Homo sapiens: one gene and its partner. The protein of the gene in region 1 purifies or fractionates together with the protein of each later gene. This does not show direct contact. Each region holds a gene or a part of one and is shown in the gene's direction. Other genes may lie near its edges.

Region 1 (3,359 bases):
TTCAAATGCTCAGTAGCCACAACTGGTTTCTGACTGTTTTATCACATAACACAGATCCTATGGGAAATTGTGTTCAGGTATGGAAATAGTGATGGAAATTACTGATTAATACAAGTGAGCTGCTAAGTTCTTATGTAATCATGTAAATTTTGCACTGACTTCTAAAATAAAGCTTTACACATATTTAGAGATGAGGATTATGAAAGGAACTGAAGGTAGGTTCCAATGGCAAAACACCGGATTGACAGATTTAAGAACACTGGGGAGGAAATAGAACTATGGGGCATAAAGATGGAATTTCCTTAATGGTTCTCACTGACTGTGACCTAAAGTTTATCTTTTGATTTTGGAAACATTTTTTAGATGTAGATATTAACATTCTAATAATAGAAATGAAAAAACTAAAATGAAAATGAGAAAACAGAAGATAATATCAATAAACAGGTCTTGGGCCTCAGAAGATGAGATGTAGGGAGTGTGGAGAGGAAAAGCACAGGGGGTGCATAGCTCTCATTAACAAACGGCCCAGCCCACAAATACGTAATCATATTATACAAAAGGATTTCAGTTCTTCCCTTGCTTCCTATGAAACAATTTTGCCAACATACCTAACCGTTTTACCGTGATTTAAAGTGTACAGAATTTTCTTTTTCTGAAAAGGAGAGAAGCAAGGGACTCATATATATTTCAGATGTGAGATTGAAACGCACGACAATGTGTAATTTCAGTCAAGACTTGCCCACGAGTCCTAAGATAATTCAAATTTGCAAAATAGACACTAACTTGAAAGGTGCAATTGTATCAATCCTGTGGTTAGCAGAATTTTGATGAATGCCCTAAAATAGGGCAGGTTTAACAGAATTCAGGGAATGAGCAGGAATGCACAAAGCATCCTTTGTCTCCTCTCCACTCCAGCTTGCAGACATCCGCGGGCATTTGCGGGCAGTGATAAATTTGGTTTAGCCGTTTCCCCTCCCTGGAGGACGGGGGCTCCAGCATATTCATGATGTCAATCGCCTTGGACTACATGCCAGCGTCATTGCGAACCTGCTACACTTTACAAAATAGCTTTCCAATGAGAAAGAAAACCTACTGGGAAAGAAAAACAAAAAGAAACTAGACCTTGCAACGGGCACGCACGCGCACTATCCCTCTCTGAAATATTTATAGTACGCTTACACAAACGCGAACTTGTAAATCAAAACTCTGCCTGAACCAAAGTAGCCAATAGATTAAAAGTATGTAAATTAGGAATTCCCAAACTGCTCTTTTTATTGGCTAGGAAAAGAACACCTTACAGGGAATCCGATAGGTTAATTCACAATAGTGTTAGGCTGTAATGTCATTCTTTAAGAATCTTTTCCAGTAAACATTTGTTACTTTTTCAAAGTAATTGGGAGCTGTTGAGTGTGGAAGCGAAAACCAAGTTAAGAAGTCCTGTTATTTGGGTGAGTCCAGTTCCTATAAAAGTTCTGTTGGATGTGTCTTAAATTGTTCGGTGCACCTCAGCTCTCTCCCGCAGGGATCCGGAGAAACTGCGCCATTGTTGTCTTACAGAGAAACAACCTTCTAACACTCTCTTCGCCGCCATCTTTTTCAAGATTTTAAATTGAAAATACTTTTTTTGACGGCTCTTGCCATTATGTCTGGACGTTTTAATTTCAACAAAACGAAATAATAGTGTTAAGTTCTTTGAGTCAAACCCGATATTACAGAGGTAGGGATTCCAGGATATTAGAATTTTACTATAACACAAATGAAACACAAAGTTCCTTATGCTTAACAGTGTATCTTAGAAAACCTTGTTTGAGTGAATTAGCCTTGTACTCTATAATGAAACGAGGAATCATTGAGAGATACTTAGGCAACGGATTTTAAATGAGTGAATAAGGAAGGGAAAAACTTCAGGAAAATGCAGAAAAAAGCAGCGGAGATTTTGGAAAAAAAATTCTAAAGCACTTTCTAACGCAAACACATTCGATTTTTTATAGCTAAACAGGATAACAGATCAGTCTATTAAGTTAAATGATCAATGTCTTTGCAGGTCATGGTCTACGTGAAACATCAAAGAAACCTGTAACGGAAAACGACTTGTTTGAAAGAGCCAGTTCTCTATCCAAATTTACCAATCAGAATCTTGCACTGAAAAAATAAACCAATCGTGAATCTCTACGGCCACTTCCGGAATTTAGCAACCGATCACTAACAGGGATCGTCCACAATCCAATCAGAGTGATTCTGTTCCTATATAGAGGGGCAAACCAATCTTCCTAACTCATTTACTTTGCAGATGAACTATGGCGCGTACTAAGCAGACGGCTCGTAAATCCACAGGCGGTAAAGCACCGCGCAAACAGCTGGCCACTAAGGCAGCTCGCAAGAGCGCTCCGGCCACGGGCGGCGTGAAGAAGCCCCATCGCTACCGCCCTGGCACCGTGGCTCTGCGCGAGATCCGTCGCTACCAGAAGTCTACCGAGCTTCTAATCCGGAAGCTGCCGTTTCAGCGCCTGGTGCGAGAAATAGCTCAGGACTTCAAGACCGACCTGCGCTTCCAGAGTTCCGCGGTGATGGCGCTGCAGGAGGCCTGCGAGGCCTACTTGGTGGGGCTTTTCGAGGACACCAACCTGTGCGCTATTCATGCCAAACGCGTGACCATCATGCCTAAAGACATCCAGCTTGCCCGCCGCATTCGTGGGGAGAGGGCGTGAATTGTTTTGAGTACAAACCTTAAATCCAAAGGCTCTTCTCAGAGCCAACCACTTTGTCCGTGAAAAGGGCTGTAATCCTTTGAGACGCATTAGACCACTAAACTGCACTGATCCAAATAGACATTTGAAATAGTGGCATTCAGTTCCCTCGATGCTTCATTTAAATTTCCAAATTTAAGCGCTCCCTCAGGTTTTCGCCTAGGGCTGGGCCTCCCTACGCTGTTCTCCATTGGTTTAGCTGGCTTTGTTTTGCTGTTCAGGCCCTCTGCTGCTTTCTTGTACATTGTTCTCGTTTTCTAAACTCCTGGCCACTTAATTGTACCCTGCTTAACCCATCCTCTTGTTTTCTGGCTCAACGCTCTTTCATGTGGTGGCCTGCATTTTAGGTCTTAACTGCATAGGCTTTCAACGCCTTGGTTTTGCCTTTCCTTGATGTTTATTTGACCTTGCCCGAGGGGCCAGCGCTTTTGATCTGCATCAGGCTGCCTTACTCCACTAGTGTTTTGAGACCCAGCTACTTGCCGGCGACGGTCGGTGCCTTGGGTGCGGTCAACGTTACTCTCTGTGCGCCTGATACTGGTCTAAGGCTAAGGTTATTAGCTGGAACACCTAGACCCGTGGCACTAACACACAGCTCTTGCAGACTTGACA
Region 2 (3,751 bases), on another chromosome or scaffold:
CAGGCATGTGCTGCCACGCCCAGCTAATTTTGTATTTTTAGTAGAGACGGGGTTTTTCCATGTTGGTCAGGCTTGTCTTGAACTACTGACCTCAGGTGATCCGCCTACCTCGGCCTCCCAAAGTGCTGGGATTACAGGTGTGAGCCACCACGCCCAGCTACAGTGTCTTTCATTATACTGAAATTTCTCCTTTTGGCCAGGTGCGGTGGCTTATGCCTGTAATCTCAGCATTTGGGGAGGCCAAGGCGGGTGAATCATCTGAGGTCAGGAGCTTGAGACCAGCCTGGCCAACAAGGTGTCTCTACTAAAAATACTAAAAATACAAAAATTAGCCGGGCGTGGTGGTAGGCGTCTGTAATCCCAGCTGCTCATGAGGCTGAGGCAGGAGAATCGCCCAACCCAGGAGGCAGAGGTTGCAGTGAGCCGAGATTGCACCACTGTACTCCAGGCTGCGCAATGAAGCGAGACTCCATCTCAGAAAAAAAAAAGAGGAGTTGTGATCTTTCAAAAAAAGACCCTGTCTTTTTTTTTTTTTTTTTTTTTTTTTTTTTTTGAGAAGGAGTCTTGCTCTGTTGCCCAGGCTAGAGTACAGTGGCGTGATCTGGGCTCACTGCAACCTCTGCCTCCCAGATCCAAACGATTCTCCTGCCTCAGCCTCCTGAGTAGCTGGGACTACAGGTGCCCACCACCATGCCAAGCTAATTTTTGTTTTGTTTTGTTTTGTTTTGTTTTTGAGATGGAGTCTTGCTCTATCCCCCAGGTTGGAGTGGTGCAGTGGCACGATCTCGGCTCACTGCAACCTCTGCCTCCCAGGTTCAAGCAATTCTCCTGCCTCAGGCCCAGGCTAGAGTACAGTGGCGTGATCTGGGCTCACTGCAACCTCTGCCTCCCAGATCCAAACGATTCTCCCGCCTCAGCCTCCTGAGTAGCTGGGACTACAGGTGCCCACCACCATGCCAAGCTAATTTTTGTTTTGTTTTGTTTTGTTTTTGAGATGGAGTCTTGCTCTATCCCCCAGGCTGGAGTGCAGTGGCACGATCTCAGCTCACTGCAACCTCTGCCTCCCAGGTTCAAGCAATTCTCCTGCCTCAGGCTCCCAAGTAGCTGGGACTACAGGTGCATGCCACCGTGCCCGGCTAATTTTTTGTATTTTAGTAGAGACCGGGTTTCACTGTGTTGCCCAGGCTGGTCTCGAACTCCTGAGCTCAGACAATCCACCCGCCTCGGCCTCCCAAAGCGCTACAATTACAGGCGTGAGCCACCGCGCCTGGCCTAATTTTTGTATTTTTAGTAGAGACGGGGTTTCACCATCTTGGCCAGGCTGGTCTCGAACTCCTGACCTCAGGTGATCCGCCCTCCTCAGCCTCCCAAAGTGGTGGGATTACAGGCATGAGCCACTGCCCCTGGCCTAATTTTTGTTTTTAGTAGAGATGGGGTTTCACCATGTTGGGCAGGCTGGTCTCGAACTCCTGACCTCAGGTGATCCGCCTTCCTCCGCCTCCCAAAATGGTGGGATTACAGGCATGAGCCACTGCCCCTGGCCTAATTTTTGTTTTTAGTAGAGATGGGGTTTCACCATGTTGGGCAGGCTGGTCTCGAACTCCTGACCTCAGGTGATCCGCCCTCCTCAGCCTCCCAAAGTGGTGGGATTACAGGCATGAGCCACTGCCCCCGGCCTTTTTTTTTTTTTTTTTTAAGTGAGGTTTGTTGAGATATAATTTACATCCAATAAAATAAACTCTTTTCAGGACATTTGTGTTGACAAATGACAGGGCCAGCTAACCATAATGAAGATAAACCCTATTTCCATCACTCAAAACAGCTCCCTTGTAGTCTGTCCCCCCACCGCCGGCCCTTGAGACTGCCAATCTGCCCTCTGCCCTGTAGCTCTGGAAACTCGGCTCTGTGGACCCACACAGTGCCTGGGCTTTTGAGTCTGTGCCTTGGCCTTAGCCTGGATGAATCCCACCAGCACCCTGCTGTGTGCGTCCATGGTGCCTCCTTTCTCCCATTGCTCGAAGACCCCATCGGGTCTCTTCTTGATTTCAGACCCTGGCCGGCTCCTGTGGGAAGTTTGCCCCCTTTGAAATTAAAGAGCACATGGTCCTGGCCCCTCGGCGTCGGACCGCTTTCCATCCAGACCTCTGCAGTCAGCTGGACCAGCTCCTCCAGCAGCAGAGCGGCGAGTTCTCCTTCTTGAAAGACCTCAAAGGCCGGCAGCCCCTGAGGTCCGGACCCACGCACGTTTCCACCCGGAATGCAGATATTTTTAACAGGTCAGAGCCTGAGGAGGTCGGCCTTCACCCACTAGTGATGCTGGAGGCCAGCATCCTGAACCCTGGGGTCCCCGGGGTGGGAGCTCTGGGTCCTTCTGTTGCTTGCTTCCTAGTGCCCTCGGGCCCTGGGCTTCGGTGCTGGCTCAGGCCTCTCTCCACCTGGCCTTCCTGTAAGCTCCTGAAGTCTTCCTCTCCCTGTCTTCCCAGCTCCTCGTGGAGGAATCTTATTTCCCTGCTGGTCTCCAGTGAAGGATACCCCCCAACACCTCGCTCTTGCAAATCTCATTCCACAGAACCTCCCTTGCTAAAAATGCTCTGGGGCTGCACCTGGGCAGCTGTCCTCCCTCTCACCCTGCAGGCTGCACCCTCCTCCATCTGTCCCTTCAGTCCATGTTCCTGACCTTTCTTTGGGGACAGGCAGTGCTGCTTTTTAACAAATGCCCATCTTTCTAGAATTGTTAGGCCAGCTTCACAGGGAGGTTCCTGGGAGGTTTGTGAGCAGGTCTGTAAGGCAGCGTGATCCTGAGCCTGGGGTTTTCCTTCTCAGTGATGTCGTCATCGTGGAGCGTGGGAAGGGCGACGGTGTTCCCGAGAGGAGGAAGTTTGGCAGGATGAAGCTCCTGCAGTTCTGTGAGAACCACCGGCCTGCCTACTGGGGTACCTGGAATAAGAAGACGGCACTCATCCGCGCGCGAGACCCCTGGGCCCAGGACACGGTGAGCTAGCCCCAGAGTGCCTCCGTCCCCGTACCTCCTCACTGTGCCCCTTTCCTCCAGCCCCAAAGACAGTTGTGAGTCCCATGTGTTTCTTTTCTCAGAAGCTCCTGGACTATGAGGTGGACAGTGATGAGGAGTGGGAAGAAGAGGAGCCTGGGGAGTCCCTGTCCCACAGTGAGGGGGTAAGGATGTGCCCCAGCTGTCTTCACTCACAGACGGCTTGTGTTTGAGTCTCTGTCCCACAGTGAGGGGCTAAGGATGCAGCCCAGCTGTGTTCACTCACTGACAGCTGGTGTTTGACCTGCTGTGTGGTCTGAAACCTGAACGCACCTCAACATCCAGACTTCCAGCTTCTCTCGAAAAATCTCATCTGGTGACACTCGCCCACGTGGCTGCTGGGGATGGGATCCCGTCCGCATCTGCACCGTGGCCCCACAGCCCCCTCTTGCCTCCTGCGGGCCTGCTGCACACCATTTCCTCCTGACTGCCCAGCTGCTGTGACCTAGTGGGCTTTCTGCCGATGCTCACCGTGTCTGTCGGGAGGCCATGCAAAGCAGATGTTCACAGCTTTACATTTTTTTGTTTCTTTAAGATGGAGTCTCACTCTATCACTCAGGCTGGAGTGCAGTGGCGCGATTTCGGCTCACTGCAACCTCTGCCTCCCAGGCTCAAGTGATAGTCCTGCCCCAGCCTCCCTAGTAGCTGGGATTATAGGTGCGTGCCACCATGCCCAGCCAAGATTTGTATTTTTAGTAGAGA

Evidence for each region.
Region 2: the proteins of H3C6 (region 1) and CHAF1A purify together in Homo sapiens (affinity purification with western blotting; 5 studies listed by BioGRID, with this or other methods). This does not show direct contact.

The regions. Positions count from the first base shown.
Region 1 is NC_000006.12:26,222,858-26,226,216, forward strand, and holds H3C6 (histone H3.1), read left to right. Parts: upstream 1-2,277; 5' UTR 2,278-2,297; coding exon 2,298-2,708; 3' UTR 2,709-2,759; downstream 2,760-3,359. UniProt on the Homo sapiens protein: Core component of nucleosome. Nucleosomes wrap and compact DNA into chromatin, limiting DNA accessibility to the cellular machineries which require DNA as a template.
Region 2 is NC_000019.10:4,426,615-4,430,365, forward strand, and holds part of CHAF1A (chromatin assembly factor 1 subunit A), read left to right. Parts: intron 1-2,049; coding exon 2,050-2,276; intron 2,277-2,823; coding exon 2,824-2,992; intron 2,993-3,093; coding exon 3,094-3,174; intron 3,175-3,751. UniProt on the Homo sapiens protein: Acts as a component of the histone chaperone complex chromatin assembly factor 1 (CAF-1), which assembles histone octamers onto DNA during replication and repair.